Regions from separate parts of the Homo sapiens genome. Here regions 1, 3 and 4 are each linked to region 2. The links come from fine-mapping of genetic effects on plasma protein levels. A gene starts in region 2. Each other region holds a variant in brackets. All regions are shown on one strand. Distances are between the middles of the regions. Region 1 overlaps SNX33 (sorting nexin 33). Region 2 holds the start of CSPG4 (chondroitin sulfate proteoglycan 4). Region 3 overlaps UBE2Q2 (ubiquitin conjugating enzyme E2 Q2). Region 4 overlaps LINC02255 (long intergenic non-protein coding RNA 2255).

What was found. PIP is the chance, under the fine-mapping model, that this variant and not a neighbour inherited with it causes the effect. Protein levels are from antibody-based Olink assays in UK Biobank. Linkage for the fine-mapping came from a reference panel and not from the study's own genotypes, which makes the PIPs less certain.
Region 1: its variant is fine-mapped to the plasma level of the CSPG4 protein (UK Biobank, PIP above 0.99).
Region 3: its variant is fine-mapped to the plasma level of the CSPG4 protein (UK Biobank, PIP above 0.99).
Region 4: its variant is fine-mapped to the plasma level of the CSPG4 protein (UK Biobank, PIP above 0.99).

The regions. Positions count from the first base shown.
Region 1 is chr15:75,656,946-75,665,046 of GRCh38, forward strand. It overlaps SNX33 (sorting nexin 33), which reads left to right. Exons shown (of 2, transcript NM_153271.2): 2 at 17-5,356. The coding sequence ends at 270. Among named protein-coding and RNA genes, the nearest start is that of SNX33, 13 kb to the left of the region's middle. RefSeq lists enhancers at 1-446, 447-946, 2,919-3,492, 4,641-5,214. The variant G/A (reference allele first, on the strand shown) is at 4,261.
Region 2 is chr15:75,708,906-75,717,006 of GRCh38, forward strand. CSPG4 (chondroitin sulfate proteoglycan 4) reads right to left here and starts at 3,943. Exons shown (of 10, transcript NM_001897.5): 1 at 3,763-3,943. The coding sequence starts at 3,850.
Region 3 is chr15:75,870,675-75,878,775 of GRCh38, forward strand. It overlaps UBE2Q2 (ubiquitin conjugating enzyme E2 Q2), which reads left to right. Exons shown (of 13, transcript NM_173469.4): 5 at 2,754-2,894; 6 at 5,513-5,597; 7 at 7,287-7,347. Among named protein-coding and RNA genes, the nearest start is that of FBXO22, 29 kb to the right of the region's middle. RefSeq lists an enhancer at 664-1,613. The variant T/C (reference allele first, on the strand shown) is at 3,396.
Region 4 is chr15:74,394,671-74,402,771 of GRCh38, forward strand. LINC02255 (long intergenic non-protein coding RNA 2255) reads left to right here. Exons shown (of 4, transcript NR_146881.1): 4 at 1-86. Among named protein-coding and RNA genes, the nearest start is that of MIR6881, 13 kb to the right of the region's middle. RefSeq lists enhancers at 1,591-1,660, 1,681-1,750, 1,801-2,150, 1,832-3,031, 2,201-2,400 and 7 more. The variant A/C (reference allele first, on the strand shown) is at 3,184.

The sequences.
Region 1 (8,101 bases), 52 kb before region 2:
GCTCTGCCTATGCCAGGCGCCTTCGCCAAGGTGAAGGAGAGCCAACGCATGAGTGACGAGGGCCGCATGGTGCAGGACGAGGCAGACGGCATTCGCAGGCGCTGCCGCGTGGTGGGTTTCGCCCTGCAGGCCGAGATGAACCACTTCCACCAGCGCCGTGAGCTCGACTTCAAGCACATGATGCAGAACTACTTGCGCCAGCAGATCCTCTTCTACCAGCGGGTGGGCCAGCAGCTGGAGAAGACCCTGCGCATGTATGACAACCTCTGACCGCGTGTGCCTGGGCCCCCTCCTTCCCCTGGGCCTGGTCACTGCAGTGTACCCCACTTTCCCGACCTCCCTATACCAGCAGTGACTGGGGGAGGGGTCAGCGGTGGGGGAGATAAGCGGCCTGTCCTGCCTCCTGGGAGAAGGAGCTTTCAAGGAGTCATGGGTGCCCCTGGGAAATTCCCCACTCCTTAGAAGTGGGGCACAGCAGGGGTGAGAATAGAGTCAGGAGCCCTCGAGGCCAAGGCCTGGGCTGCCGGTCAGTCAGTGAAGGTCAGGCCAGGGTCTCAGCCTCCCCTAGAGCCTATTTTGCTTGCTCACCTGGCCACTGCTGCCTTATCCATTCAGCAGACACCGAGGCCTGCTGCACCCTTGGGTCGGATGCTGGGCACCCAGGGCTGTGACATGCCTGCTCTTCAGGAGTCCTCAGTGAAGGTCGGGGTCAGACACAGACAGAGTCAATGCAGTATGACTGATGTTTAAGTGAGGGATTTCTGGAAGCTCATAGAAGGGACCACAGCATTCCACTGGTCAGGGAAGACTCCATAGAGTAGGCAACATTTGGGCAGTGTTTTGAAGAATGACAAGGGCCTGCCAGACAGTACATGGGGGAGAAGGACTTTCAGGGGAGAGGAACAGCATGGGCAAAGTTATGGAGGCATGCAAACATCTCCCTCTTCTCTCCCTTACTTTCCAAGCAAGTTAGGTACGCTTTCCATGGGGATTCTGGCCTGTGTGGTAGGAAGGGATCTCCCTTGCTCCCATGTTGCTGGCTGTCCGTACATCACCCTGTCCCCTGCAGGAGGGGGCTACAGGCCATCTCCCTCCTGTAGGCCTCTGACTCCCCTCCACTTTTGGGCCCTCAGCTTATCTCGGGCAGGGGACCATTGCAGCATCCTCCCCTCCTCGGACTCAAGGTGCTGAGGTATAAGCCCTGGGCCCCAGATCCCTGGTGACACCTTCCTGGAGAAGACTCTCAAAAGTGACTGTATATTTGAGTTCACCAGCAATAACTCCCCACACTCGAAGCAGGTCCAAACCCAGGATCTCAGGGTCCTTGGGCTCTGTGGCACTGTCTTCCCAAGATCCTTCCTGTTGCACAATGGGAAACCTAAGAGGAAAAAGACAGGGGCCTGCTTGCCCAGCCATGCGAGGGATTCCATGCCCACCTGCCCTCTGTCTGCCTCGCTGGAATGTGGGCCCCTGCTCCCCGTCAGGTTGTGCTGTCTCTGACCTATGTTTACATCCCCGAGGGGTTTCTGCCTCCTCCCCACCCAGGTCAGGGTGTGGTCCAGCAGCTTGCTGTGGGGTGCTGACATGTGTCACCACTGCCCCCCTTGCCCCCGGGGGGGTCATGGTCTCCTCCTGGATGCTGCTCCTTGAATCTTTTTTCTTGATAAACCTTTTACAATTAAGATAACACAAGCATGACTTTTTCTGTTTGGATCCCAGAAAGGCGGAGGGCAGGAGAAGGATAGAGCCCTAATTGCTCCTGAGAGCCATTGGATGAGATTCTGAGGTCGTGGTGGGCACAAATTTTCCACAGAACCTCAAAAGTTCAGGGGAGGGCTATGCTGGTGGAAGGTGCCAGCAGGCAGGAGGAGCTAGAGGCGGCTGTGGACCCCTGGGTGGATCCATCCCTCCCTAGAACGCACTCTTGTCTCTAAAACAGGTGGAGTGCTGCCCAGGGGACTGGCTGTACTGCCTTGTGATCTGGGGCTGAGGGTTGTATGAGGAAGGGACAGGACGCTGTGCCCTAGGACAATTAATAGATGGTGGCTCCTCTCCCCAAGGAGCCATGCCCTGGCCTTGCCCTTGAAAAGCCCTAGTCCAGGGGAGGGAAGTGGGGGACTCAGAAGCTGTGTCTCTTCCCCAAACCGTCCTGGGTACCCAGCCCTGCGGAGGCTCCCACATTGGAAACTGAAGAGGACGCTGGCTGTTGGGGGTGCCCTGATCAGGATGAGCGGACCTTGCTCTTGGATCTGTTCATCCACAGATGAGAGGAGGGTACTGGTTGAGACTTGGCTCTCCTTTGGAGGCAATGGGGACTTGGTGGAGGGAGGGCTTCCAGGGTCAAGGCCGTCAGGGAAGGTTGGCTAGACCAGGGACCAGGGAGCTTGTGCAGGAAGATGGAGAAGGGCCAGCAGGTGCGGTGGGGGAAGGGGCGGGCAGGACTCCCTGTTCAGGGCATAGCGTCCTCAGAGGAACTTCTGGAATGGGTCCCCCTGGCCCTTGGTCAACATTAGGTCAGATTTGGGACTTTCTGAGGAATTTTCCCCTCTCTCCACCCTGCCCCATTTTCTAACCCATCCGAGGAACTTCCCGCCCTTAACCTCTTCTCAGCTCTGCCATCCATGTAGCCATCTGCAGAAGGGGCTCTGAGCAGTGGGGGCTGGGCCAGGCCGAGGCAGGGCTGGTGGGAATGCTCCTCCTAACCCATGGTGCCTGGAAAGTCCCCTGCTCATGCTTCCTGCTCTGGGAACAGTGTTGTCCTCTGTGTGCCTTCCTTGAGAGGGGACCACCTCCCAGGCCTTCCATCCTCAGGGTGAGGCCATCAGTCTGATACTTTTCTCAGGAGGGACTTGGATCCAGGAGAAGCATCAGGAAGTGGAGTCTTGGGATAATGCCAGGCCTGCTCCTGGTATCCTGAGGTCTCTGGGCTGGGGCAGGTGTGTGTGTGGCAGGGAGGGAGGCTGTCCTGGCCCTCCTCTCTCTTTTCTTTCTGCCTCTATGGGGGTGGGGGTATTGGGGGAACTTGGGGCCGTTCTGGGGTAGCTAAGCCCCTTTCAGCAGGAGATTGGGGGACCAGTGTTGGGGGCATCCTGGTGATGGCCGATTCCTGCCTCGTCACATGCCAGGCAGATGTTCCCGACTCGGCTGGACCCAGCTGCCTCGTTTCCTCCCTTACTTTGCTCTGAGGGGGTGGAAAACAAGGCTTCTCTTTCTGCCCTGGACAGCTACCAGCACCCGGGGTAGGGGATCCCCTGGTCACCAGTCTTGGCCCAGTACAGGAAAAGGAATCCGCTTTGTGGCCACAGATGGGGGCTGGGGATGGAAGCAGACCTCAGATCCTGCATCTCTTCACCCGCTGGACACAGGAGGGCTATGAACCACTGTGCCGTGGCTGCACCACTGGCTGGAGCAGAGCCAGGCCTGGGAGAGGCAGGTGGCCCCATCGGCCCCTGCTCTGCACCACCCCTCCCAGATGACAGAGCCATATGTCTTCCACGTGTCTACACACTCACAGACTCACGAATGTAATCGCTCAGTCTCACAACAAGCACACGCAGTCACACACCTGCCCACAGGCACATACGCCACATAAGCATGCCTGTATGCTCACACAGTCATACTGCCACACGCTATTACACATTCACAGCCACAGCCACACATGCCTTGCCATCCATTCAAAGCACCAGTGGCTACTTTGTCAGACACAGCCACACCACAGTCCTATGCACATGGTCATAGCCTCACACAGTGACACATACTCGGGCACACACCGCCACAAAGCCATGCTTGCACAGAGCAAAGGTGTCATAAGCATCTCTGTGCCTGGACTGCACCTGCATGACCTCCCAGGGTCCCCACCTCATCAGAGATTAAGGAGAGCTTTGCTTGGAGACACCACCCCTGGAGGGGGTGTCTCCAAGGGGGAGTAGAGCCAGTCACAAGCACCACATACAGGCACACAGCCTGAGGTCTAGGGATGCAATTGGGATGACTGGATACCACCAAGTTCAGCTCCTTATTGAACAGATGGGCGCCTGAGGCCCAGGGAGCAGTGGTGGCTGGCCTTATCACCCAGCAGGGCAGGGGATACTCTGGGGCCAGAGCCTGGCTCTGGGCAGACTCTGTTTCCTGGCCCTGCCCTCCCCTGGGCCAATCCTCTGGGCCAGGCTGCCTCTGAAGGCCCCTGGCTGAACCGATCCAGCAGAGCTCCAGGCAGCTCCCTTCTCAAGCTAGAGCTGAGCTGCAGTGGCCACGGGAGCC[G/A]GAGCCAGGATGCGGTGGGCAGGGCCTAGGCCTGGGCGGGAGGAACATTCCTGCACCATCTCCTCCCCAAGCATGTGAGGACCCAGCCCGCCCTGCCCGCCTGCCCGCTGACTCAGGCCTCCAGGAGCCAAGCCTGCTCAGCTCCCCCACCCACCCTAACCTGCTTCCCCACTAGTTCGGCTCTGGTTCCCCTCTCCACTGGCTGGGGCAGGAGAAGACGGTGAGCCCTGGTAGGAAGACCATGGGGAAAAATCAAACCTCACCACCCCCCGACATAGCTCAGAAGGGCTGATTGTGAAACCCAGCTCTGTTCAACATAGTTGAACACAAACTTTTTTTTTCTTTTGGTTTGGTTTTGTTTTGTTGGTCAAACCCCAGTGCAGTGCAGTCTGTTTAAGAAGTAGTGTCGCATAGCTGTGGCCTGGATCTGCTCAGCAGCCCCAGTAGGCAGCATTTATTCCCTTTCGCAACAAAGAGACTGAGACTTGGCCAGAGGGAAGATGGGACCTGCCTAGGTTCACACAGGGAATCTCTGGCGGGGCTGGACTCAAACCCAGCTCCCTGCCATCACTCCTTAGAGTCACACTGATGAACTCATTTAGGGCCAAAGGAAGAAGGGGAGGCAGATTTCCCCTCTAGATGAGTGAAGGGATAGGAGGCTGGTGAACCCAACGGCTGAAATGTGAAGGGTGAGAGGGTAGGGTGAGTCCCCCCAGCCCTGAGGGATGAAGGGTCTGAAGATGGCACTGCACGGTGACAGCTGCAGTGACTCAGGAGCTCCGTTTACAAAGGAACATGAGTGAGGAACATAACTTAATTTTTTTTTATATCTGACCTGAATTTCTGTTTTCCTCCCCCATTCCCCACATGGTAGAAGTGTAATCTCACATCAATTTGGGGACCCTTTCTTTCCCCAGGGATGTGTAGAACTTTTGGGGATGGCACATTTGAAGACCTTAGGGAGCTTTGCATTTTAAAGGCTGAATCCCACACTCTATCATACATATTAATATTTACCTGCATTCCACATTAAAGGGTTCAGTTTATGACTTGTGTCCTGTCTTGTAGATACTTAATTAAACGGTATTAATTTTGATTTTGCCCCTTTCTGTTGGTGCTCTGCTCTCTTCCCTCCTCCCCGCCCTGCCCACCCAGCAGCACACATTGTTACGGGTTGCTTCTTGCAGAACTCCTGGACCTGGATGCTGCCATTGGGCCTGCGATGCCCGCCATGGTCCTGGTCAGCATTGGGCCCTCCGATCATCTTGCCCTGCCTCCTGCCTTTCCCCTGCATGCTCCCTTGATGCCCATCCTGAGTCTCTGTGTGTCTGGCTCTTCTCTGCTCTTGGGCACTCAGGGCTCCTTCCATTTGCCCTGTACTAAGGGGCTGATAGAGGTCCTTTCTGTGGCCTGTGGCCCCCTCTGGGGCCTGTGGTCATCATTCCACAGCTCCCACTTCGCAGTCAAGCACAGGGAGCTCTGGGGTGCCGCTTAGACACCCCATGCCACCCTGTTTCTTCTGGGATCTGGCTCCTTTCTTGGGGTTCTACCTGGGATGGGGGTATGAGTCCCACTGCTTCGGAATCTCCCAGCCTCTGGGGATTCTACTATCTCCCAGTGCAGGCAGCACTGTGATGGGCACTGGATGGTCGTTATTTTACAACCACCCCATGTGCAAGAGATTATTACTGTCATTTTACACACCAGGAAATGGGGTCCAGCGAGGGGGGTGCTGGAGTAGCCAAGGCTGGTGCGAAACAGTACCCAGGCCTGGGCTACCTGTGCTGAGAGGCAGATGGCCAGTGCCAGGGCCGGGTGTTACAGGCTGGCGGAAGCCTGGAGGCACCTGGAGCCTCTTCTGGGCTGACCCGCACCCCTTGCTGCCATTTGGCAGGAGTGCTCTGGGGTTGGAGCAAGGGAGTATGAGGCTCCTCCATATAGCCCTGCTGCCCCCAGATAGCAGCAGCCCCCACCCCAACCCCATTCCTTTCCCTCTACCGCCCAGAGGCAAGTGCAGATCCTGACCAGTGTGGCCTTGCTGTAGGGATGTTTCTTAACTGCTTCATGCTTCTGTTTCTCCACTGAGAGGGGAGTTCCAGATGGCTGTTAGGAGGGTGACGTGAGCAGAACACATCATCTGGGCAGTGCCTGCACAGCCAGCGCCACTGAGGAGCAGGTGGGGTCATCAGCCTGAGTAGAGCTGGAGCAGCCCTGGGGAGAGAGAGTGCTAAGAATATTGGTACCCCCACTTCATAGGTTGGAAAACTGACTGGGCAAGCCCTTTAAAGCCACACAGTGGGTAGATGGCAGAGCTGGGCCTGGAACCAGGCCCCCAACCACCCCCAGACCTTTAGCCTTGCCCCGTGTTGCCACACTGCCTCCGTGGGGAGCAGATTCCTTGGGGTCCTTGGCTGTCATTGTACTTGTCATCCAGGGCAGGAGGGGTCCGCTGGGCCACTAACAGTTACATATACCAACATATACAGGATAGCACAGCCCAAGGTTAAGAGCCCCAGTCTCATACCCAATGCCTCCCATAAACAGATTCACTGGGTGACCTCATGTAAGGTCATCATTCAGTCTCAGTTTCCTCCAGCATCACTCAAGCGATGGTTACCACGATTATACATGGCCACGAGTTCACGAGTGTGGATGCTGTCACTGCCTCAGGCCGGCTGCATCCTCAAAGCCACACAGGTCAGCCAGGTTGGGTGGGCCTGAGTGCACAAGAGCTACCATTTTTTCAGTCCTCTGTGCTGGTACCACGACTGTTTGGAAGGTAGGAACTCCTATTGTCAACATTTTCCAGCAGACGGTGGCTCAGAGGCATTGAGTCACTGCGAGATTGCGCACCTGCCCCATGGCAGGCCTGGGCTGAGGTCTGCCTGCACTTGGAGCCGTGCCCTTCCCACCGCACCAGGCTGCCTTTTGAAGGCTGGGGGGCTAGGCGTGGCGGGGGCCACTGTCCTGCTGCAGTGTGAACACAAGGGTGCTGGGAATCGAAGGGAATGGGGAGGGAGAGGGGCAGGTGGCCGTGAGGGGCAGGTGGTGGGTATTGGGTGGAGGTGGCTGTGTTCCTTCAAGTCAGTGGGTGAAAGGTCAGAGGGCTTGGCCCACAGAGAGTGCTGAGCAAATATTTGTGGAGAGATAATTTTCTGGAAGGCCCGAGGCTGGGGCATGGGGTCAGGTTCTGGCTGTGGAGGAGGGGGCTAGACAGGTGAGGCCATGGGCAGCGAGCTGGGGGCAGGAGCAGGACTCTGGTCTCTGAGAAGAACTCAGGAGCCTCCTTACTCCAGGAGACAATATGGGGGCAGTGAGAGCTGGCAGGAAAATGTCGAGACTCGGGGAAGGGGGCTTGTGAGTGCTGAGCCAAAAAGGGCTCTGGCCCTGGGGCTGGGCTGGGGTGTCAGGTGGGGCAGGCAGAGGTGGGGTGATGGAGTCTCTGCCTGCATCTGGTACCTGGAGTGTGTGGACCCACCTGTGTGGTTGCAGGTGCCTGTCAGTGTGTGCACCTGTACCTACCTGCGTGTATGTCCCTGTGGTGGCGCTGGCGCTTGGTATCTATAGTCATTCAGCCACACGAGCTTTTCCCTGTGTTTCTCAGCCTGGAAAAGACAATTCCTCTCCCCCTGAACCTCAGGCCCACCTTGGGCTCATGCCTGGCTCCTCTCTTTCTCTCATTCCACATCCCATCCACAAGCACAGCCTTGTTAGTCCATCAAATGAGACCCCAAATGTAATGCTCTCACCACCTGGGTCCAAACCACTAGGCTTACCTGGACTATTGCAGCAGCCTCCAAGCTGCCCTTCTGCTGCCTCTCCTGCTCCTTAATGGTCTAAC
Region 2 (8,101 bases):
CAGCTACTCAGGAGGCTGAGGTGGGGAGATCGCTTGAGCCTGGGAGGTTGAGGCTGCAGTGACTGTTTCCTGACCTGCAGGGCTGCTGTGGGGCTGCAGGACTAACAACATGGTTAGTGCACACTATGGGGTGTCCCTGAAGGTAAGAGCACAGCAATAAGACAGCTCTGTCCTCTCCTGTTTGGAGTTACGGACCCTCCTGAGAAGCGGAGAGAGCTAGGAACCCTTGCCCCACGGAGGAGCCAAGTACAAAATTGTTCATACAAATTCAGTTCATTCAAAAATTCCTCATACAAACTCAGTAGGAATGGTAATACAGTAAATCTGAAACCTGCCCTAAGCCTGCAGCTGGAGGAAGAGCCTTAACTCTGGAAGGCTCTATTGAACTGACATATGCTGGGGCGGAGGGCATGTTGGAGGCAAGAGGAGAGCTGGATGGGGCGGGAGTCAGGGGGAAAGGCAGTGAAGGAGCAGAGGGACCAGGGAGGGACCAGGCCTCAGTCCCATGCCCACAGGCCCCTTGTTCATTTGCCCCTGGCCTTGAATAGAAGACACACCTCAGGTGGCACCCCTGTCCCCATCCTGTGCTCACTTCCTTCCCCGCAAGTGCCACTGGCCCAGATCTTTAAGGTAGGGGACTTGGAGACAGAGGCAGTAGCCACCTCGTCCAGGTCTGTGAGAGTGGCCGTGTGCAAGTGTGTGTGCCCACATCTGTGTGCGCCAGTAAGTGCGGACGTCAAGGCTATTTCCAACTCCCCCTCCCCTGCCCGCCCCTCCTGGGCAGCACGCCCAGTTCCCAGACACAGCCTATACACTTCCTCTGAGAGCTCCACACGCACCCTACTCCCCTCCTGCCGTCATCGACAGCCGCCTGGCCCACCTGGCATGGCCCACCCCAGGCCCCCCAGGCGGGCAGCACTAAAAGGCCCTTCTTGTCCTGCCCGGGCGGGCAGGCGTAGGGAGGGAGGCTCCGTTACACTTGCTCTAGAACAGTTTTTCTCGAGTCCGGGTGGGCTGGGCCAAGGGCTCTGGCCCCTGGGCCCTGCCCTGCTCCGGAGGCCTGGGGTGGCACACAAGGTGCACACAAGGCTCAGTGCCTGTCCCGAGCACCATCGGTCCCCCCAAGCCATCCTCAGAGGCAGCAGGATCTACCCTGCTTCAATTTCTTGTACCTGGTGTCCCTGTGGCCCTGCTCACTAAGATACCCCCATCAGTTCTGAGTCCCCACCCAGGTAACACACAAGCCCTCCCTGCCAGGTACTCCCCAACCTGGGTCCCACTTCAACCCCTCACATTCTGCCTTTCAGTCAGTGATGCCAGGGAAGAGGTGTGGGAGCCACCACCCCTGCCTGCCCTGTGCTCACTGTGACCCCCCGACTAGAATGTCACCTCCTTCCTTCTCTGCCTGTCCTTCCAGTATCAGCTCAAATCCAATCTCCCCCAATGCTTGGCTCTCTGCTGGGGCCTCCCATACAGCTCAGAAGGAGCTGGACACCGCATCTGTCACCCACACTGTCTCAGTGGCCCAAGCCTAGGCCCCGACGCAGGCTGGGAGCACCCTCGAAGCAGGGCTGGGGGCTCTTCCTGGGCTGCTGGGGTTCTTGGTGGAACTCAGAGTACTTTTCTTCCTCTCTGGGGCCTCAGTTTCCCTCTCTATACAAGTGGAAGATTGGCCCAGATGGCCTCTAGGGTGCTGACTGCCAGGCCCCCTGACCTGGATGCCTCAAATGTTGATGAGTAGAGGGAGAGCCTCCCAGCACGCCTCATTCGGATACGGGAGGACGAGGGCCTTTGCAGCCAGGGGCATCCAGGAGGGGTGGGAGGGACGCCTTCCTCAGGCAGGGGCTGCCCCTACTGCAGAAATCAGGGCAGGCAGCTGGACCAGGAGTGGTGACAGAGATGGGTTGCTGGACGGGAGCTCTCACAGCCCCTCCTCATTTCCGAGTCCTCCTAAAGGCAGGGGATGGTGTAACTTTATAAAACCCCACAGCACCATGCTGCTCTCTTGCCCTAAAACCCTTGTGGCATCTCCTTTGCCAACAGGGCATAAGGCCGTGGGCTTCATTTTGCCATTTAAGGCTTCTGTGCCCCAGCCCAGTGGTTCTCCCTGGCCTGTGCTCGAAATACGCCTCCCAGCCAGGCTGCTGGCCTTCCTGTCTCAACACCCCTCTGCTTACGCCCACCTTGGTGCCTCTGAGTCAGCGCCCCTGCCTGGAGGACTGACTCCCTTCCCATCCACCAAGGCTTGGTTTGAGGCCCACCCTGTGTCCTGCCCCAGCTTGCCCCTGCTTTTCTCCCCTCTGTACTTTTCATCCAGATTTTTGCTGTTTGAGATTTAATTTGCCTTTCTGCCTCCTGAATGAGTCTCAGTTCAGCCTCTCAATTTCCCGTGCCCCTGCGAGCCTAGCACCATGCCTGCATGCTGTCAGGGCTAAGAAGGTATTTGAGAATGGCTCTCAGTTGAAGCCCAAGGAGGTGGGGGTACTGGAATCCCTCCTTGGCTGGAGGCTGGGGCCTGAATGAGCTGACCACCCTGGTCACCTTGGATGCTCCCTTCCCATCTCCCTGGCGGCCCAGCCCATCCCTCAGGCCCTGAGATCTTAGGGGATCTGGTCCCTGCAGGAACAGGGAGCCTGGAGATCCAGCCCTGATTCACCCCGCGGGGGTCCTCCCTTGACTCACTTCCCTTCTGGGAACCATGTGATGCCCTCTTTTAGAGCTGGCTTCTCCATCTGAAGGAGAGAAGGGTGTGGCCTGGGCCCTTGTGAAGGAGGCTCAGGCCCTGCCTTTGCTCCATGTTGCTCTTGGGAATGATCTCGAAGGTGTAGCTGAAGCACTGAATCACACGTGGGTAGTGATGATGGATGGGCCCTAAGGCCACAGTTCTTATGGCATAACTAGAGCTGCCTTCGCTGAAGGAAGAATGCTGTCATGTTGGGGTTTCTGGCATCGGGACAGAGAGGGGATATATCCCAGCACTTCTCGGAAAGCGAACTTCCATTCAGCCTCTGCTGGGTCAGGCATCAGTGCTGGGATGAGGAGGTGTGGCAGGGGGTGGTCCAGAGCTATCTGTAGGACAAGCCCCGCTGAGGGGCACCAGCTCTCCCTCTAGGAGGCTGAGAGTGGGTAGTGGGTGGGGGGTCCTGCCTGTCACCAACAGGAGGAGGGAGAGGAGAGAATGAAGAGGGGAGGTGGCAGATAGACGGATCTGCAAGGAAGCAAGGGGAGGAAAGAAGGGGCAGAGCTGGGGGGCAGCTGGAGGGGTGTGGGGGTGCTCCTCACAGGGGAGGGCAGGGTGGCTCATTCCTCGTTTCCCACCTTGTAGCACTCCCCATTCCTGGCCCAGGGCATCTGAAGCTGGAGGACCCACTTCTCACTGTCGCCGGGTCCCTTTGGACCCCAACATACTCACCCCAAACTTGCCTGGCAAACAAAGCTCGGCCAGCATTGGGGTGGCCCCACTGGTGTCTCAGACAATCCAAACGGGCAAAGCCACGCCCTAGGCAATCCATGCCTGGGGCGCCTGCTCCCGCCCCTAACTGGACAGCCTTGGCTAGCTAGAAACCCCATAACCTGAGATAGCGGGGTCCCGTGTCCGCCCCAGGATTGAACCCCTGGCGACCCCAGCTAGTGGTGGGAGAAGCGCAGCCTGCTTGACTCCCGATCTGGGGGCCACTTCTGGCTCCTCCTGTCCCTTTTCCCTCCCGGAGGAACCCCTCTAGTTCCGCCAGGCTGGGTCGGGGTCTCAGGCCCCTCACTCACCCGCGGATGCAAGTCTGGCCAACATAGTCAGGGTCAAAGCCAAGGCCAGGCCGGGGGCTGGAAGTGGGGGCCGCGGCCCGGACTGCATCCCGGCGGGCTGGGCGGCAGGACTTGCGAGGAGCCAGCGGAGTCCTGGGAGCTGGGAGCTGAGTGGAGCGAGCGCGGCTCTGCTCCTGGGCGCGGGCCGGCTCCGGGTGTCCGCGCACTTAACTCCGGGGGCGGGGCAGGCGCAGACCCGCGCGCCCGCTCGGGTTTCAGGCTTGGACTCCCCCACCTGCCCCCACCCTCAACCTTCTTAAAGGGCCCGTGCGGGGCTGTTCCTCTCTGGGGCAGGGGTGAGGGGGCCCTTGCAGCTGGGCCAGACCCCAGCCCCACCCTAAAGACTTAGAACAAAGTCATAGAGAGGCCCAGACACCCTGAACTCTGGCCCCAAGAGCCGAGCCCGGGAGACCCCCTCAGGGAGGAGGCATGAACTGTCCCAGCCCCTACTTCCCTCCTTTCTGCCTTTGCGGGAGTTCAGGAGACCCCTCCACAGGCACACTCCAGCCTTAGGAGGAAGGACAGACACCAGCCACCCTCACAGGCGGCTTTTGGGCTGCTTTGCCTCGGAGGTCCCCTAGGAACTTCTCCAGACTCCAGAGGCACCACCCGAGGTCCTGTGGGGCACTGCCCATGGCTGCAACAGTGACCTTCTCTGCCTGGAAGGGCCTCACCTCAGTCTCCCTGTCTGTAAGGGAGAGATGTCTGGATTTCCTCGCAGGGCAGAAGAATTCTCAGTCCCGCCATGACATTTGCCTCAAAATAACCTTGCAAGGTGGGTGAGGAGCATCCCCTCCCCCATTTCATGGAGGACGAAAGTGCAGCTCAAGCTGAAAGTGGCTCTTACAAGACTCCAGGTGGAAAGTAGGTCCCTGGCCGTTTGGTGCCAGAAGCCCAGGCCTCCTGACCCCTGAATCCGGGTGTTTCAACTTCCCGAGGCTGCCTCCTGGAAATCTGGCCCTGGATTTGGCTTCTACCTAACAGCTTCAGGCTGGGGCCCTTCTGCTGGCTCCCTTCCAGGCAGCAACATCAGCCTAGTCCCAAACAGGAGGAGAAAGGGCAATGTTACTTAGCTTCCGGTGCCTAGAGGATCTGCGTGTTCTCTGTCCAGTCCCAATGTTACCGGGCCTTGGTTTACTTCCTCCATTCAGGTCCCTCCATCTATCTGCTCCAGCCCATCTCCAGCCCAACCCCACCTTGCACCCTCTTCCCAGCTCTTCCCTTTGACCAGTAACAGCCCAGCACTTCATACTTTGCAACGAAACTGAGACCTGTTTTGCAGATGAAGAAACTGAGGCTGAGAGAGATTAAGGGACTGGAGCTAGTCTACATAGCTGCTGAGATGTGGGGCCAGGTCTTTGACCCTAAGTGCAGTGCTCAGGTGTGATGGTGCCTGGTCCATGTGGGGGTTATGAGTATTGGTCTTGAAACCAGAGAGACCTGGGTTCAAATCCCAGCTCCCTTACTTGGTTGTCAAACCTTGAACAAGTCCCCTCACCTCTCTGTGGCAGTTTCCTCATTTGTAAAATTGGGTTAATGAGGATTAAATGCTTTAATGTACCTCAAGTCCCTAGCCCAGGGCCTGGCATACGGTAGGTGCTCAATAAATGCTTATCCTTTCTCCTCCGTCTCTGTCATCCTGCACATTCCCTGTGATTCATGGTTTACATACAGCTTTACACATATCACCTCCCTTGTTGTAAAGCTTGAACTTTCTCCTCCAGAGGCTGCTGCATACAGTAGGTGTACAATAAATGCCTGCTGTAGTTGACTAAGAAACCAATTGCTGCTGTTCTGTAGGGATTTTGGCAAACCTAAGAGCTTCCATCCAGGTGCCCTAGGAGGCCTGGGATGGAGGCTGTGCTAGGCTGGCCTCAGTGGCGGTAAAGGCATTGATTCCACAATTTGTCCCTTGTTTTTTTTTTTTTTTTTTTTGAGACAGAGTCTCGCTCTGTTGCCCAGGCTGGAGTGTAATGGCGCGATCTCGGCTCACTGCAACCTCTGCCTCCCGGGTTCAAGCGATTCTCCTGCCTCAGCCTCCTGAGTAGCTGGGATTGCAGGTGTGCACCACCATGCCTGGCTAATTTTTGTATTTTTAGTAGAGATGGGGTTTCACCATGTTGACCAGGCTGGTCTTGAACTCCTGACCTCGTGATCTGCCCGCCTCAGCCTCCCAAAGTGCTGGGATTACAGGTGTGAGCCACCGCGCCCGGCTGTCCCTTGTTTTTCCTTCTCCTCAAGTCGGTAGGACACCTGGTCCTCATTAGGGGCTAATTACTGACAAGCTATGGGGCTGGGGGTGGGGGTGCTGCTTGGAAGACTGTGTTTGGAGGAAAAGAGCTTTCTTTTCAGGAATGAAAAAATAAGACAGAAGGCTTTTTGCTCTATGAATCAAAAATCTGGGTGAAGATCTCTGCTGGCCCCATCTCCCCCCCCCACCCCCTCCCCATCTTCCCTGCTCCCCACCTACACAGATGTCTGTGGAGCCTCCAGACAGGGTGCTCCCACCCACAGCTGAGATTCAAGTCTGGATTAGCTGGGAGCCTCCCCCTGCCTTGTTGCTAGCTGGGCAGAGAAACACAGGCCTGGAAAATAATGGCAACCAGCACAGCGGTAATAACCCGGCTGGCGCATCTCTGCTGGGGCTTCCCAGTTTACAAAAAACATTCACTTGGTCTCTTGACAACTTTGGGAAGCGTATGTGTTGGCCAACTGTGTCCCTGCTTCCAGATGAGGAAACTGAGGCTCTCAGTGGAAAAGGGATGCTGCGGCTCCAGCGCACACAGGCCTGGCCTTTGCTCAGCCGTAACCTAGGGCTGGAACTCCGGACCAATGCTGAGCAGCATCATGCCAGGCAGACTGGCAGAAAGTCGAGGTCCCTGTGTGCCTTTGGAACTGACCCCTGACCACCTCCCACTGTCTTGGAACAAAGGCTGCTGGACCAGCTGTGCCTGCTCCTCAACTGTCCCCTCTCCAGCTCCTCAGCAAGCTCACCCAAGGCCCTGAAGCCTCAGTGCTGAACAGAGCTGACCTGGGCCTCTCTGGCATCCTCAGGTCTGGCTCGGGCCTTCTTCCTTCTGCCCTCCAACCTTTCCCATGACTTTGCTTGGCCAGGCATCCTTGGTGGCCATCCCTGACTGCCCCTACCTCCCTGGCCACATCTCACCTTCCTCCAGCAAGCCCTCCTAGCCCTCCTTCGTGCTCGTCGACTTCTCTTTCAAAAGATTCCCTGGAATCCTGATCTCCGTAGCTCTCCTAGTTTCACCTGGGGCCTGCTTAGCTGGGTCAGGAGGTGTGCGTCCATGCCTCCCCAGCCAAGCATGGGACAGAGCACAGGGTGGGAGGGAGGAGGAAAGAAGGAGGCTTAGAACACACTTATAAGAAGGAAGAAGGATGTTCCCACCCAGGGGCAAAAGAAGATTCAAACTTCTCTGAAGCTACAGTGACCTGTGGTATGTGCTGCCTCCATTTCTCCAATTGTTCTTGGAGAACAAGACAACAGAGGGCCCAGTAATACTCACCTCCCTGCCAGCAGAGTTCACCCAACCATGCTGGCCAAGCACTGCTGGTCACTCCTACCTCTAGTGCTTCTTGGACTAAGAGTCCCCGCTCTGGGCAGTGGCTGTGGTTTGGCCCCACCCTTGGCCAGGGTGTTTTGCACCCTCGTTGCCTGGGCCCCACCCAAGAAGCCTGTGGCCAAAGCCAGCTTGCTGGGAAATGGTGTGTGCCTGTGCCCTAGATGGGGTGGTGCCTAAGCAGGGGTGTGCTCCTGCTGCCCAGGGCCCGCCCTCAGGGAATTGGCCCTCTGCCATGAAGGTCACAGAACCTAGGCCACTACTGTGCAAGAGGGCACGGGCTTTAGGCGCTGGCTCAGTGGCCCTGCAGTTTTCTGGCCAAGAGCTCCATGGCAGCGGGCCCTGGGCCTGGGCCTTTGACCTGGGGCCTCTGTTAGGAGTGGTCCTGATCCTGCTTCTGGCAGAGGCACACACAGGGCTCCTCCAAGTACAGGCAGCCAGGCTCAGGATGGGAGGGAGCAGCCAGTCCCAACAATTACACAGTTCGGGAGCTGAAAAGTTATGTTTGCCACTCTCAGGAGCCAGCTGTGGAAGGGAGGCCAGTGGAGGGCTTTGCCCTGGCCTCTGAGCCACACACAAGCCGTGCTGGGAGGACAAGGGCCGGGGGTGGTGAAGGACCCTCTTGGAGCCTTTGCTTTCCAGGAGCAGGCACTCGTCTTCCATATCACACTCACAAAGGCTGGTGGCTTCAGTGGCTGTGACCAGCTGGCCACAGCTGACTCCTC
Region 3 (8,101 bases), 160 kb after region 2:
AATAATATGGGAACAGGCTCAGAACAACCTTGGACATAGTGTGTTTGAGTTCATTGGATACTTTTCTTTTGAGGAGGGTTGATGGGTGGAAGTCATGAAAAAACAAGATTGGCTAGAAAAGGCAGATGGTTAAAAGTCTTGAATTCGAGACAGGTGTGTTTCTATTTGGTGTGATTATTTGAAGGGGTGGGTTGCCCCTCCACACCTGTGGGTGTTTCTCGTTAGGTGGAACGAGAGACTTGGAAAAGAAAAAGACACAGAGACAAAGTATAGAGAAAGAAATAAGGGGACCCAGGAAACCAGCGTTCAGCATATGGAGGATCCCGCCAGCCTCTGAGTTCCCTTAGTATTTATTGATCATTTGTAGGTGTTTCTCCGAGAGGGGGATGTGTCAGGGTCACAAGACAATAGTGGGGAGAGGGTCAGCAGACAAACACGTGAACAAAGGTCTTTGCATCATAGACAAGGTAAAGAATCAAGTGCTGTGCTTTTAGATATGCATGCACATAAACATCTCAATGCTTTACAAAGCAGTATTGCTGCCCGCATGTCCCACCTCCAGCCCTAAGGCGGTTTTTCCCTATCTCAGTAGATGGAACGTACAATCGGGTTTTATACCGAGACATTCCATTGCCCAGGGACGGGCAGGAGGCAGATGCCTTCCTCTTGTCTCAACTGCAAGAGGCATGCCTTCCTCTTATACTAATCTTCCTCAGCACAGACCCTTTACGGGTGTCAGGCTGGGGGACGGTCAGGTCTTTCCCTTCCCACGAGGCCATATTTCAGACTATCACATGGGGAGATACCTTAGACAATACCTGGCTTTCCTAGGCAGAGGTCCCTGCGGCCTTCCGCAGTGTTTGTGTCCCTGGGTACTTGAGATTAGGAAGTGGTGATGACTCTTAAGGAGCATGCTGCCTTCAAGCATTTGTTTAACAAAGCACATCTTGCACAGCCCTTAATCCATTTAACCCTGAGTTTGACACAGCACATGTTTCAGAGAGCATGGGGTTGGGGGTAAGGTCAAAGATTAACAGAATCTCAAGGCAGAAGAATTTTTCTTAGTACAGAACAAAATGGAGTCTCCTATGTCTACTTCTTTCTACACAGACACAGTAACAGGCTGATCTGTCTTGCTTTTCCCCATAATTATTGATAGGAAGGCCTTAAGCAGGGAATAGTGTGCTGAGGATATTGTTTGAGAAAGATAATGTTGAATTCTGTTTGGGATGTGCTGATTAATACTCAGAAAAAGAAATTTCGTGGATGGGAACATGACTGAGGTTGAAGGTATAGGAGGAAATACAGGCTAAAGGCATTTGTGAGAATTGTGAGGAAAACATGTAGGATGGAAGATCAGGGCTGAAAGGTGCACACAGGGAGAAGGGAGCTCAATGAAGTATGGAGTCATGGGCAGAGTTTGAGTGAGAACAGAACGTTATAGGGCTTGAAGAGATGGCATTCCAAAAAGGAGGCCGGGGAGGTGAAGGCTGCAGTGAGCCGAGATCTTGTCACTGTACTCCAGCCGGGGCAACGGAGCGAGACTCCATCTCAAAAAATAAAAAAATAAACCCAAAAAGGAGGCCTATTGAATGGATAGAAGGTAGTGATTAACCTGGTCTAGAAATCAGTGAATTAGCCTGCTTGGGGAAAAAAAAAAAGCCGAGATGCGTATAAACTACTCCTTTAGAGATTTTGGCAATTGAAGTAGAGAAATAAGGTAATTGCAAAAAGTTAGGATTTAAATTCTGCATAGATTTATATATGTGTAAGAACAGATAGTACGGGAAAGAAGGGAGCAGAATGATGTGAATAAAGATATTGGTCTAGGGGTATTCAAATTCTTTGTTTTCTTTTCCTTTTTTTTTTTTTTTTTTTTTGAGATAGAGTCTTGCTCTGTCACCCAGGCTGGAGTACAGTAGCATGATCATAGCTCACTGCAGCCTCAAACTCCTGGGCCCACATGATCTTCCTATCTCAGCCTCCTGAGGACCTGAGATAAAATTCTTTTTCTAACTTTTTTTCTAGTTATAAACGTCAATAGATGCTTACTACATAAAACTTGGAAATTAGGGGAAAGCATTAAATGCCTCCAGAGATAACTAAGATTAACTGAAATTAACATTTCAATGTAAGTTCTTCTGGTCTTTCTTTTTCTGTGCTTATTTCAGCGTAACTGAAATTCTTTCTATTCTTTTTTGTATTGTTTTTCATTTTAAAGTTTTTCGTTACAGGAGAAATTAGGCTATGTTAGTATTTCAGTGGCCTCTTAATATTTTGCTATTTTGCACATGCAGATTTTGTGTTTATTTTTGTGGCTGCAAGGTTGAAATAGGTATCCTTATGCCTAAATTAGTGTTTATAGTTTAAACTAGTTTCTTAGAATACAATTCTAGAAGTTGAGTTTCTGGAACAAACTAGGAACACTTAAGGTTCTTGACACCTGCTGCTAAACTGTTTTAAAGGTTCCTCTTAATAGGAGATTTAGAAGATGGCTTATTTGGTAATAGTTATGATTTTGTAAAGCTTTTAAATCTGCTTTACCCAGAGTCTAGATTTTAAATAAAATATAGGATATAAAAGGTGGGAGCCTCTTGAATGGAATGTGGGGGCTTTTTCTCTCTCCCTATAGGATAGTTACATTTTGTTTCTTGTTCCTCATTTGAGTCAAGAATAATTTAATGTTATTTTGGCATAAGAAACTGCTGAAGAAAAATAGGTTGAATAAGCTAACATTTTTCGTCTCTTTGTAGGATATAGAAGACTTAGATCACTATGAGATGAAGGAAGAAGAGCCTATTAGTGGGAAAAAGTCAGAGGATGAAGGAATTGAAAAAGAAAATTTGGCAATATTAGAGAAAATTAGGAAGACTCAAAGGCAAGACCATTTAAATGTAAGTGTGTGTAGATATCTAGAACCTGGACTTTTGTGGTTAAATAATTGTAGTTAATACCAGGCAATTCATTAACATGCCCATCTCAGCTGCCCTCTTCCTCCATTTCTGCCTTAGTGGTGGATTCAGTCATGTGTGTTTTAAAACAGGGTCTTGCTCTGTCGCCTAGGCTAGAGTGCAGTGGCACAATCATAGTTCAGTGTAGTAGCCTTGATCTCTCAGGCTCCAGTAATCCTGCTGCCTCAGCCTCCCAAGTAGCTTGGACTATAGGCACATGCCACCATGCCAGGCTAGTTTTTTTTATTTTTAGTAGAGATGAGGACTCTCTGTTGCCCAGGCTGGTCTTGAACACCTGAGTTCAAGTCATCCTCCCATCTTGGCCTCCGAAACTACTGGGATTACAGGCATGAGCCACCGTGCCTAGCCTTAGTCATATGTTTTGTTGCTGTAGATTACGTTTCTTATCTATAGATAGCCACTTTTTACCCTGTTCATCTGCTC[T/C]TCATATCCTGGAACCACCTGCTGATCCCTGTATTTGCCCCTTCCCGGCCTGTTTATGCTGTTTTCTCTGCTTACCTTCCTCTCATGGGATCTGTATATTCAAATTCATCCTCTCCGACAAAATACAATTCAAGTTCTTTCTCCTTCGTGAAGCTGACTTTGGTCTGTCCTGCTCTGACCCAACCAAAAGTAATTTTTCTCTTTTGACTTAACATCCTTTTTTTTTTTTTTTTGGATGAAGTTACGCTCTGTCTCCCGGGCTGGAGTGTGGTGGCATGATCTCAGCTCACTGCAGCTTCCACCTCCCAGGTTCAAGCAGTTCTCCTGCCTCACCCTCCTGTGCAGCTGGGATTATAGGTGTACACCACCACACCTGGCTAATTTTTGTATTTTTAGTAGAGACAGGGTTTCACCATGTTGGCCAGGCTGGTCTTGAACTCCCGACTTCAAGTGATCCACCTGCCTTGGCCTCCCGAAGTGCTGGGATTACAGGTGTGAGCCACTGTGTCCGGCCACAACTTAATATCTCTTTTACGTGAAGCAGCAGGATGTGAAAAGAACACTGAGTCTGGTGACAAACACACAATTTATGGTTTCACTTTCCTCAGCTCTAAAATATGGCTAGACAGTACATACCTTTTGGATGATTGCTATCAAAAATAAATGAAAATGATGTGTGTATATATATAAAATGCTCAGAGTAGGGAAACATCAAATGATTGTCTGAACACTTACTACTTTTTGCCTTGTGTTAGAGCTATTGACCAACTCCGTGAAATCTGAGTAGCAGTTACTTTGTCTTGGGCACAGGTTCCCCAAAACAGGGAATGAATTGTTAGGTAAGTAGATGCCAAATGTTGAAAACAGGTAGATTACTCTCCCTCCTTCAGTCTAATTTATATATTAATCTAATTTATAATTTTTAGTAGAGCAAAGAAATTTAGTCAAGCCCCCATATCTTGATTACTTAAAAAACAAAGTTTGTCATTTGAATTAATGATGACTGTACTTTATGTCTTGTGATCGATTCCAGTTTGAGTTATAGTCAAAACAACTATAAGTTACTGAACACTTTTGCATGATGGATACTATGCCAAGTACTTTATACTTCACATATCTTCACATTTAGTCTTCATAGCCACCGTGTGAAATAGGTATGCTTCATATTTTAGAGATAGGAAAAACTTCTCATATTTTGTAGATATGAAATGAGCTAGGAAACTTGATTTTTCCCCCCTTCAAAGTATAGTGCAATGTTTAAAATCTTTAATTTCACGTGACCAAAAAATAGTTCCGTTTGTATTTAGTCTTATGATAAGATATTGATGTGTTTTCATCTTTAGAGATGTCCCTGCACTGAAAAACTGAAACCAGTCGCATGTAGGCAGATGTTTCTCAGTGTCTTAATGTGCGAACTAGACCATCTGTGTAATATTCTTGTTTGTAGTCTTATGAATGGAACTCTATTTTAGTAAATAATGTGTCACCTTGAGTGTCTTCTAGTATTTTCAAAAATTGCTGGGGTTTGGAATAGACTCATACTGAATTCTTTGTTATTGTGGAATCCATGGTGGTCTGGACATGTTGGCTAGACTTTTTCACATGAGAAGAAATAGGAAATGAACTAGACTTGTGCCTAGTTTTAATATCCTCTTGAAACTTCATAATGCTTCATTTAATTGGGCTTTTTTTTACTTCTTAAAATGTTGAGGTTGGGCACAGTGGCTCATGCCTGTAATCCCAGCACTTTGGGAGGCCGAGGCAGGCAGACCACGAGGTCAAGAGATTGAGACCATCCTGGCCAACATGGTGAAATCCCGTCTCTACCAAAAAAAAAAATACAAAATTTAGCTGGGCGTGGTGGTGCGCACCTGTAGTCTCAGCTACTTGGGAGGCTGAGGCAGGAGAATCTCTTGAGCAGGGAGGCGGAGGTTGCAGTGAACTGAGATTGCGCCACTGCACTCCAGCCTGGGTAACAGGGCTAGACTCCATCTCCAAAAAAAAAAAAAAAAAATGTTGAGTGGTGATCCATTTTTGCTGTAATCTTTTAGATCAGGTTGAAATATCTTAAATCTTAGCTCAGCAGACCCTGGTAAACAGTGGCTTTTGTGTTTCAGGGTGCAGTGTCTGGGTCAGTGCAAGCTTCAGATAGACTTATGAAAGAGCTCAGGGACATATACAGATCACAGAGTTATAAAACAGGTAAGGATCTCTGGATCCCTGCTCTCTTTATGATTCTTCTGCTCTTTTCTATTGTCAGATTATAAATGTCATTTCTTAAAACTGGACAGAAATGGAAATGTTTACTAGCTTTATTTCAGGAATGTGAAACTCAAATGCAATCAAGTTCCAAAAGATGTAGGAGTAAAATAGGATGAGTTTACTTGTCTTTTGGATTTTTAAAAAATGTTTTTATAGGTCCATTGGAATTTTGTCCTCTTCTTGATAAACAGTGAACTCTTACATGATTTTTATCTTCTGGGGAAAGCATGAGCGATATTGCTTGGAAAGTAAATAAGAGTAAAACATTTCATTTTACAGAGAATAATTGCCAAGTTGATTTTTATGATTCCCCCCCATTTTTGAAAGCAAGATAATCAGCTTTTATTGTAAAGATAGTTATGTTATTACCTTTAAAATATATAAGTTTTTAAAGTTTTCATTTCCTTGTTTGACGAGTATTCTTACTCAATATGACTTGAATGTTATGGAACCTCTCTAACTAGAGGTAAAATTCTCATATTGTTATGGAGATTCTAATAGTATTAAATAATGAGCCAAACTTTAATTTGAAAAGATAGCATTGGTTGGGTGCGGTGGCTCACACTTATAATCCCTGCACTTTGGGAGGCCAAGGTGGTCAGCTCACCTGAGGTCAAGAGTTCAAGACCAGCCTGGCCAACATGGCGAGCGAAGCCCCATCTCTACTAAAAATAAAAAATTAGCCGGGTGTGGTGGCGCACGCCTGGTGATCCGAGCTACTCAGTGGTCTGAGGCAGGAGAATCACCTGAACCCAGGAGGCAGAGGCTGTAGTGAGCCAAGATTGCACCACCGCACTCCAGCCTGGGCAGCAAGAGTGAGACTCTGTCAAAAAAAAAAAAAAAAAAAAAAAAGGGTTATGACCGATTCAATTCTAGCATTATGACCGATTCAGGAATTCTTAGCGTGAGCAAATCAAAATTAATTAGAATTTGCTTAAAGAATAAAAACAAGGAAAAAATCCTTGCTTTGTAGTGTGCAGGATAAGCCAAACTTGTTTCTGAGTTGTTAGAATTGTGGGTGTCCTTACGGTTTTTTGTGTAAGAAGTCTAAAAGTTTATCTGTAGAAACCTAATAAAGTACAAACATTTGAATACTGGTTTTATTTTTAAATGTTAAATAATCATTTGTTTCAGCATTGTTTATATAGAAAAAAAAAAACAGATACTGGGTGGAATTTGTTAAAGCATATCCATAAAATAAACTACCACAGAGTCATTAAAAAGATTGTGAATAGGTTTATGTATACTAACTTGGAAAGATGTCCCTGAAAGTTGAAGAGAGATTATAAAACAACATACGTAGAAGGATTCCATCTTTGTAGAAATGTGTGTTCATGGAAGAAAAGTCTTAAGTACATATGATTTTGCATAATCTTTTTTTCAGTCAGACTAAACGGTAAGCAGTTTTTCAACTCATTAAAGAATCTTCTCAGTTGATGGCTGTAATTATCTGTTAAGGGCATAAGATACTCAGCTGCAGTAGTGTAATATTTACTATATAGCTTAGTTGTTCCATGTTTTAAGAGCAAAATTTCTAGCTTTCGTTGGCTATTTAGTGTATACATTTATACCATAGTAATAGTTATATGATGAAATGAAGAGTAGCTAACATGCTCTATATCTTAACAGGGATTTATTCAGTGGAACTCATAAATGACAGTTTATATGACTGGCATGTTAAACTGCAGAAGTAAGTGGCTTTTTAATGCTCACCCACTCTTTGCAATGGTAGACTATCACAGTGGAGGTTATTTTCCTTCTAACTTGATACCTTTATACTATGGCTTTTACTTAGAACTTTAGACTTTGTTTCTATAGAAATAGTTCTTAGATTGTTTAAATGAGCTGTTGCTGAGGTCTAATAAGAAAGTGAGAAAGAGGAAGGACAGAAAGAGGGACCAGCTGCGGGATAAAGTGTTTTATGGAGTTAGAGCAGGGGAACTTAAAAACAAAAGTGTATTTAATAACTTCATGAGACTGTGATAACCAGTTTATATTTGAAATATATACAGCACTTTGGGAGACTGAGGTGAGAGGATCTCTTGAGCCCAGGAGTTTGAGACCAGCCTGGGCAACATAGCAAGACTTCATCTCTACAAAAAAAAAAAAATTAGCCAGGCATGGTGGAGTACACCTGTAGTCCCAGCTACTGGGGGTGGTGGGAGGCTGAGGCAGGAAGATCTTGCACTCCAGACATCAAGGCTGCAGTGAGTCACGATCGTATCACTATATTCCAGCCTGGGCAACAGAATGAGGCACCCGGTCTCTTAAAAAAAAAAAAAAAAAAAAAAAAAAAGTTGGGGGGAGGTGGGATTCAAATTAGACCTGTATATATAGGACAGTTGTAGACAAATACAGGTTTTTTTAGTGATTTAAGTTTTCATAGTTCTGACCATGGCAAACTTTTCTCCTTGAACCCTTTGGCTAATAATGTAAGTTTAATA
Region 4 (8,101 bases), 1.3 Mb before region 2:
ACTGACTTTTACTTGCTTTCTTACTTAACAGAAATCCCAGAGCTTTTTTGCACTTTCATACACAGAAAACTTTCAGATTTTTTTTTCGAGACAGGGTCTCGCTTTGTTGCCCAGGCTGGAGTGCAGTGGTGTGATCTCAGCTCACTGCAACCTCCGCCTCCCAGGTTCAAGCAATTCTCGTGCCTCAGCCTCCCGAGTACCTGGTGCACACCACCACGCCTGGATAATTTTTGTATTTTTAGTAGAGACAGGGTTTTGCCATGTTGGCCAGGCTGGTCTTCAACTCCTGACCTCAAGTAATCTGCCCACCTCAGCCTCCCAAAGCGCTGGGATTACAGGCGTGAGCCACCGCACCCAGTCTCACATTCTTTTTAGAGCTGTCTTGAATTCCATCATGGGGACATACCATTGGGATATATCAGTCCCAAGCTGATGGCTATTAATGTTTTTGATCTTCTGCCATCACAAGTATGCAGCTTGGTGTGTGTGCATCTGTCATATTCGTTCGGGTGTCTCTGTAAGACAGACTCCTGGAAGTGGGATTACTGGGTCAAAGGTAGCTAGTAAAGCACGACGGGCCTTGCCAGCCCAGTGTGCTCCCCACCAGACCCAGGATCTAGCCCCAAGTCTGAGTGATGCAGAATTCACGCCCTCACCTCTGTGCCATCCTGCCTCCTTCAGCAGTAGGGCTGGAGCGCATGGTGAGGGGCCAGTTCTACTTTCTGCCTCAGTCAGGATCGGTCCACTTGAGCGTGATATGTGGGGGCCGAGCCGGGAGGCGTTGGAGCTAGCCGAGGAGATGAGGCCAGCCCCCAAACACTTCCAGAACACTCTGAGCCTTCATGAAGGCTGCAGGAGGGAGCATGGCCTCTTGCCCACATTCTCCCCACCTGGGATCTTCTCTCTGGCGGCTGCCTCTGCCTCCCCATCAGCGCCAGAGCAGGACTGGCAGTGGCACCCCAGGCACCAGTGAGCAGGCTACAGGGTCCGTCCCCACCTAGGGCTGCATGGTCAGACCCCTTGAAGAGGGAATGGCAGAACCTCAAGACCTTGGGTGGAGGGCAGCCCAGGAGAGCCAGCCCCAGGCCATGCCATGGCTCCGTGGCTCATGTGGGCAGCCCCCCACTGGCCCTCACAGAGGCAGAGCTGAGTCAGCAGCCAGGGTCGGGGTGCCTCTGAGGCCCAGGCCTACTTCACTGGGAGGTGTCCCTGCACAGAAGTGAGAGGGCTCAGGAGGGGCCTGGCTCTCTGCCTCTGCTGCTTCAGGAAAAGTCCTGCTCCTTGGCTGAGCCCTCAGGGTCCTTCTCCAGCCCCCTGCCCACCGCCTGCCCTCCGGTCTCCTACACCCCCTCACACTCCAGTCAGTCATGTGGAAATGCTTGCAGTTCTCCACATGGGTTATTCCACTGCCTGCCTCCACGCCTCTGACCACGCAGCTCCTTCTTTTCCAGCTAACTCCCACTTGTCCGCAAAGACAATTCAAGAGTCCCTTGGAGCAGCCTGTTCGCACCTATGCACTCACACAGCACCTTGTTTGTTTAGACCCGCCCAGTGCCTCACAGCAACCCCATCTGGGTTCACTGTCAGAGCTCTGAGCCCACGGGGCTACTCGTCCCAAAGGCATACAGCATGTCCCAACATCTGACTTCGAAGCTGGGACAGGCCTGGCTCCGGGAGGGACAGAGGCTTCTACCTGGGGTAGCTGAGCTGTCCAAAGAAGTTTCAGCCATGTCGAGCCCCTGGCGTTGCCGAAATCCCCCACCCCACGGTGCCACAGCACCAGGGCAGCCCCTAGGAAAAGCCAGCCCCTCAGAGGCCCTGTGCTAAAGACCAGAAATTGCCCCTGGGTCTCCGCAGGAGTTCTGCAATGGGGAAGTGAGCCCTCCTGAGGCCTGGCTGGCAGGAGGCTCTTCAAGGCCAGCATCATGTGGACTTCCCCCAACCACTCGCGTTTCTGCACAGCAGCCACGGAGACCTGGGGGCTGCTGAAAAACGAGATCAGAAGGCAACGTCAGCCTGAGTGGGCTGAAACCTGAGATGAGGAAATGAGAAGACGTCAGGGGGCTGGAGGACATGGGTTTGAGGACAGCCAGCACCCAGCACTGCAGCTGAGGCCTCCTGAGGGAGCCAGAGGGAAAGCAAGTCCCCTCCCTGCGGCCTGAGTCTCTGCCAGTGCCCAGCACTCCCAAAGGATCCACCCCAACCTGAGAGACCCCAAAGACATTGGAGCAGCCCCAGACACCTCCTCCCAGGGCCACAAAGGCCCCTGACAAGCCCACAGCAGTCCAAGGCCTCCAACTGGAGTCATCTTTGGTAAATCTGGGGCCCATCAGCACCCACTGCCCTTCCTGGTGCCCTAAGCATGCTGGCAGGGGGACTGGAAACTGCATCCCAGTTTGCAGTGGGTGTATGTCTCATACACCCACAATACCTGATGTGGGCGTGACTCACCTTGGGGACCTGTGAGTCAATAAGGGTGTATGAGTAAGGGGCAGAGCATTTCAACTTAGTCCCATAGCACATGAGCTCACTAAGCAAACATTACCTATGTCTAGATTTGGGGCCAGTCACTACCCACTGGAGGCTGTGGGCTCCAAGGTATGGCAGCAGGGGAGGCCAGCCAGGCTCTGCCCAGCTTGCCCCTCCTTGTGAGGACGGACCCAGCCAGGCCTCCCGCATCCGCCCTTAGACTGGGGGACCCTGGGTGGGGGTAGAAAGGGGGACTGAAAGTGGTGTCTGGAGTTAAGCCCATCTCCTCATCCCCCACCATGGGGATCAAGATGGGGGCTAAGAGTCACCCCACCACCACCCCAACCCACTCTGAACGCAAAACAGAAGGGGACAAGCAAAACAGAACTGAAACTGGGCAAAGGAGAAACAGGTCTGGGCCCGCCCCAGGGACCTCTGTATCTCACCCCTTACCCATACACATCCTGACCAGGGCCTCTCCCCCAGCCTGGGAAAACCTTTCAAGCTTGGCCCTCTCTCACCTGGGCTCTCTCAGCCTCCTGCCCTCCCCCATCTTCCCTGCTCCCAGCCTCATGCTGCCCCAGGCCTCACCCCATCAGAGCTAAAAGGACCCCAGGCTGGGCATCTGTAGATCAGGGATCTGGTCTCCCTCTGCCACTACCTTTTGGGATGACCTTTGGGAAGTCATTCCCTTCTCTGAGCCACAGTTTCCTC[A/C]TCTGGCCTGGGCTGTGGGCATAGAATCTGCAGGTGAGGGCTCTAATGGGTGAGTTTCAGGCCAGGCTGAGACTTTTCACATTATAACACTGAGGCACCCAGCACCTTGACTACCACTCATCCTGGGGACTTGGGAAGGGACAGAGGCTGGGATTGGACAGTAACAGCCAAGACCTTCCCAGGGCACAAACGCTGCCTCCCTGAAGCCTGCCCTGACTGTCCATGCAGGTCACTCCCATCACTTCACCTCCTCCTTCCCTCCACTCAGCACCAGCCACCACTGGGTCACATCTATGTCCCTTTGGCTCTGCAAGAGCAGCCTGGACCCCTGCATCCCCTACCCCAGCACAGGCCTGACACCAAGCAGGGGCTCAACAAAATATGTGTTGAAGGCCAGGCACAGTGACTCATGTCTGAAATCTCAGCACTTTGGGAGGCCAAGGCCAACAGATCTCTTGAGTTCAGGAGTTCGAGACCAGCCTCGGTAATGTGGTGAAACCTCATCTCCACAAAAGATACACAAAATTATCTGGGTGTGGTGGCATGCACCTGCAGTCCCAGCTGCGCGGGAGGCTGATGTGGGAGGATTGCTTGAGACCAGGAGACGGAGATTGCAGTGAGCCAAAATTGCACCACTGTATTCCAGCCTGGGTGACAGAGCAAGACCCTGTCTCAATGTCTCTCTCTCTCTCTCTCTCTGTGTGTGTGTGTGTGTGTGTGTGTGTGTGTGTTGAAAGAATAAAGGCAGAGAAAATAACAAGTGTTGGTGAGACTGTGGCAAGATTAGAGCCCTCACACTCTGATGGCGGGGATGTAAAATGGTATCACCTCTGTGGAAAGCAGTTTGTCAGTTGCCCAAAACGTTGAACACAGAGTTACCATGGGATTCTGCAGTCCCACTCCCAGGTAAATAGATGTTCCAAAGAGTTGAAAACATCTGATCACACAAAAACTTGTACACAAATATTCATACAGCGTTATTCTGGATATTATTATAACAGCCGAAAAGTGGGAACAATGTCCATGTCCATCAACTGAGGCACAGATAAGCAACATGGCCTAGCCACACAATGAGCTCTCATTCAGCAGTGAGAAGATGGGGCGTCCTGGTTCAGGCTACCACATGATAACCCCTGAAAACAGTATGCTAAGTGAAAGAAGTCAGACACAAAAGGTGACATGTACAATTCCATTTATATGAAATGCCTAGAAGCTGGATGCAGTGGCTCACGCCTGTAGTCCCAACTATTTGGGAGGCCCAGGCAGGAGGATTACTTGAGCCCAGGAGTTTGAATCCAGCCTGGAAAACATAGCGCGACCTCATCTCTGAATAAATTATTTAATTTAATTTTTTAAAAAATGTCCAGAAGAGACAAATGCATAGAGACAGAAAGTACATTAGTTGGGGGACAAGGAAAGGGGAAGTAACTGCTAACAGGCACGAGGTTTCTTGGGGGTGATGGAATGTTCCAGAGTTAGCTAGAGGTAGGTGTCATAGAGCATTATGAATATACTCAAAACCACTGCAATGTGCATTTTGAAATGGCAAAATTTGTGTTATATGAACCTTTACTCAATAAATACATAAATAAATAAATAATAAATAAATAAATAAATAAATAAATAAATAAAAAGGCAACAACAGCCACCCCAGGGACAGGTTTGGAAAGCCAAACTTGTCTGACTGGCTGGGTGGCTTGTCTATTTGTGTGTTTCTTAAAACAGCATCCTACAGGAGAACTATTCTTTGCTCAGGGAAACCCCCACCCCCTCACTCCACTCCTACCTCGAGACAAGGCCTCTGAGGAGCAGATGGGAGGAGAGGGGCTCTGGGGAAACATAGGGGGCATTGCAGTGGGGTGCTGCCCTCTCCTTGGGCAGGTGCCCCCATGATGAGCAGACTCAAGGTCCAGCTACAGTCCCAGCTCTGGTACAGGTCCTGTCCCTTTCCTCAGTTTCCCCATCTGCAGTCTGCCTCCCGGGGTCTTTCTGAGGTCAGTATGTAGCATGACAGAGCCTGAGAACTGCCAAACTGCCATGTTCTCTCAGAGACCCCTTTTTGGCATGCATTCCAGATGTGGGACCAGAGGTTGGGAAGTTCTTCCTTTGGTCTGACCACAGTATTCCACTTGGAGACAGCAGTGGGAAGAGGCCTTCCACTGAGTCACCCTGACTCAACTTTCATCAGCTTCAGGCCCCCCGTGGGGGTCCTTCCCCCACCGGATGCTCACTTTGCTGTAATGGGGCAGGATGTGGGTTCCCTGCTGTGGGAGAGCAGCCCCCACAGCAGCTGCTCCCTAAGATGGTTCTGGCAGGAACCAATGAGAGGAGAAAGCTGATCCTCAACCCCTGCAGGGGCCCTGCAGCCCAAGCAGAGGGCCTCTCAGCCCACCTCGGTCCCAAGTAGGACAGATTGACAGGTGACCTCCCTGTCTCAGAGCCTCAGGGTGTCTTGGAACAAGTGATCCCATCATCTTCCTCTGAGGTCCAAGACTCGGGTGCTAATGGACTCTGTGTAGGGAACCCTGGTCACTGGGGCAGACTCTGTCCCAGACCTGATCTTTGCCATTTTGCCAGAGTGGCCCACCTGACTGCTTCTCTCTGCTGTGTGTATCACTTGTATTAACCGCGAACCCAGCAAAGAGAGCAGGAGCTTGGGCCGGGCACAGTGGCTCACACATGTAATCCCAGCATTCTGGGAGGCTGAAGCAGGTGGATGACTTGAGGTCAGGAGTTTGAGACAAGCCTGGTCAACATGGTGAAACCCCGTATCTACTAAAAATTAAAAAAAAAAAAAAATTAACCAGGCGTGGTGTAATCCCAGCTACTCAAGAGGCTGAGGCAAGAGAATCACTCGAACTCGGGAGGCAGAGGTTGCAGTGAGTCAAGATCGTGCCACCGCACTCCAGCCTAGGCAACAGAACAAGATCCTATCTCAAAAAAAAAAAAAAAAAGTAAAAGTAGAACCCCTGTTTCTTGAGGACAAAGATTAGATGCATCTTTTTGTTGTGAAATTTTGGTAAACTACTTACTCTTTCTCAGCCTCAGTTCTTTGAACTATGAAATGGAGACAATAGTAATAGTATCAACCTCAAAGGGCTGGTGAGAAAACTAACCAAGACAATTCACACAAAGTTTCAGAACAGTCCCGGGCAGGTGCGTGACTTACGCATTTGGCTTTTGTTCACCACTATTACTACTTGCTTATTGAAGCTGAGCCAGGTGGCTGAGCAATGTCCCTTTCTGGCAAGGAGGGTGGAGGCAAGTGTCACATTTCAGAAAGATCCCTGGGCTCCTGTTGAATCTGTCCCCACACCAAAACATGCCCGTGGGGGCTCTAGCTCCTGCCCCAGCAGCGAAAGGGGCTCCTCCTTCTCTGGTGCCCAGTCCTAGCTCACCTGCTCTTCACAAGCCTCCTCCCAGCACAGCCTGCACCACACAGGTGCTCAGTAAGGGGGTTGCTCTGAACAGGGAGCAGGCCCACATGCTGAGAGTGGTGGAGGCGTGCAGGCTCTGATGACCACCTGAACCCAGACTCCAGGGCAGGACAGGTCCTTACAGACCGTAAGGGCTTCCTGCCTACCCTCTTCCCATGCAGTTACCTCAACCCTGGGACACCAGGAAGGTTGAGCATTCCAGGAAAGCCCCGACCCACCCAGGAAACCCAAGTACCTGGTGGGGCCTCATCTGGCCCATTGTCCTGAAAGGACAGGAATAAAGGCTCTCTCCTCATGGCCACACACCCTAGGGACGTCCAGCCTCCAGCTTTCTGTGGGTGGGGCAAATGACTGAGGAGGCTTCCCTCCCTGCAGGCGCCTCCCTCTGGGGCCTCCTGTGGTCCAGTCGTCCCTGGTCCCCAGCTCTCAGGTGGGTCATAGGGCATCTCAGCAGGACCACCAGGAAGAGCATCAGGAGGGGAAGGAGCCAGAGAGCCCTCCAGGCCAGTGCACTGCTAACTCAACATCTCATCTTCCTATCTCGTCCCTTCTGCTCACCTCCGGAGACTCCCCCTCCCCTCTCATGCTCTTCACTGGCAGGTTATGATGGCCCAGAGATCCCCACCAGAGTCCCAGATATCAGTGGGGATCCCAGCCTATTCCTCCAAGCTCCCAGTTGCCAGTGACAGGGAGGCAGAAACAGCCTGGAAATTAACTGTGGGTTCTCCCTGAGCCTGTGGATACATGGAAAGAGAGCTTCACCACCACCCCCTTCTCTGAATATACATACAGGATCTGAGGAGGGAGGATTCTGTGTGGATGCATGTGTGCACAGATGTGCATGTTTGTACGTGTGTATGGGTGAGCAGGTCATACGTGTGGTCCCATGTGCCCACCTGTTGTATATATGCATGCTTGTTTTGTGTAAGTGAGCATAAGAGGTCAAGCCAGAGAGAGAAATAGGAACAAGGAGAGACAGAGAGAGAGAGAATAGAAACAGAGACCAACAGGGAAACAGAATGAGACTGAGACAGAGAACAACAGAAGGCCAGACAGGTAGACAAGCCACAGTTCCATCTTCCCTGGTGCTGGCTGCCAAGGCAGACAACTCTCCTCTCACTTCATTGATGTTCTGCCTGTGTTTATACCCATGATTGGGGTGGAGTTCAGGAAAGGATGTATCAGGGCTAGGACGCCCCCACCTCCACACTCACAGGGCCAGTCAGGGCCCTCTGCAGGGGCTGCCATTTCCTCAAGCTGAGGAATGGGCTTGGATCCCTCGGATGCCTTCCAGGGTGCAGGGGCGCTCCCAGTGACTGGGCTCTTGTGGTGGCTGGGGAGGGGGAGCTCCTCTGACAGGCCCCATGCTGGGGGAAACGTCCTGAGACTGACCTATCACGGGCTGACATGCACACCAAGGAGGTCTCACATCTGCTGGGAAATGAGGGGCTGGTGGAGGTGAGAAAACCTCAAGTTCTAAT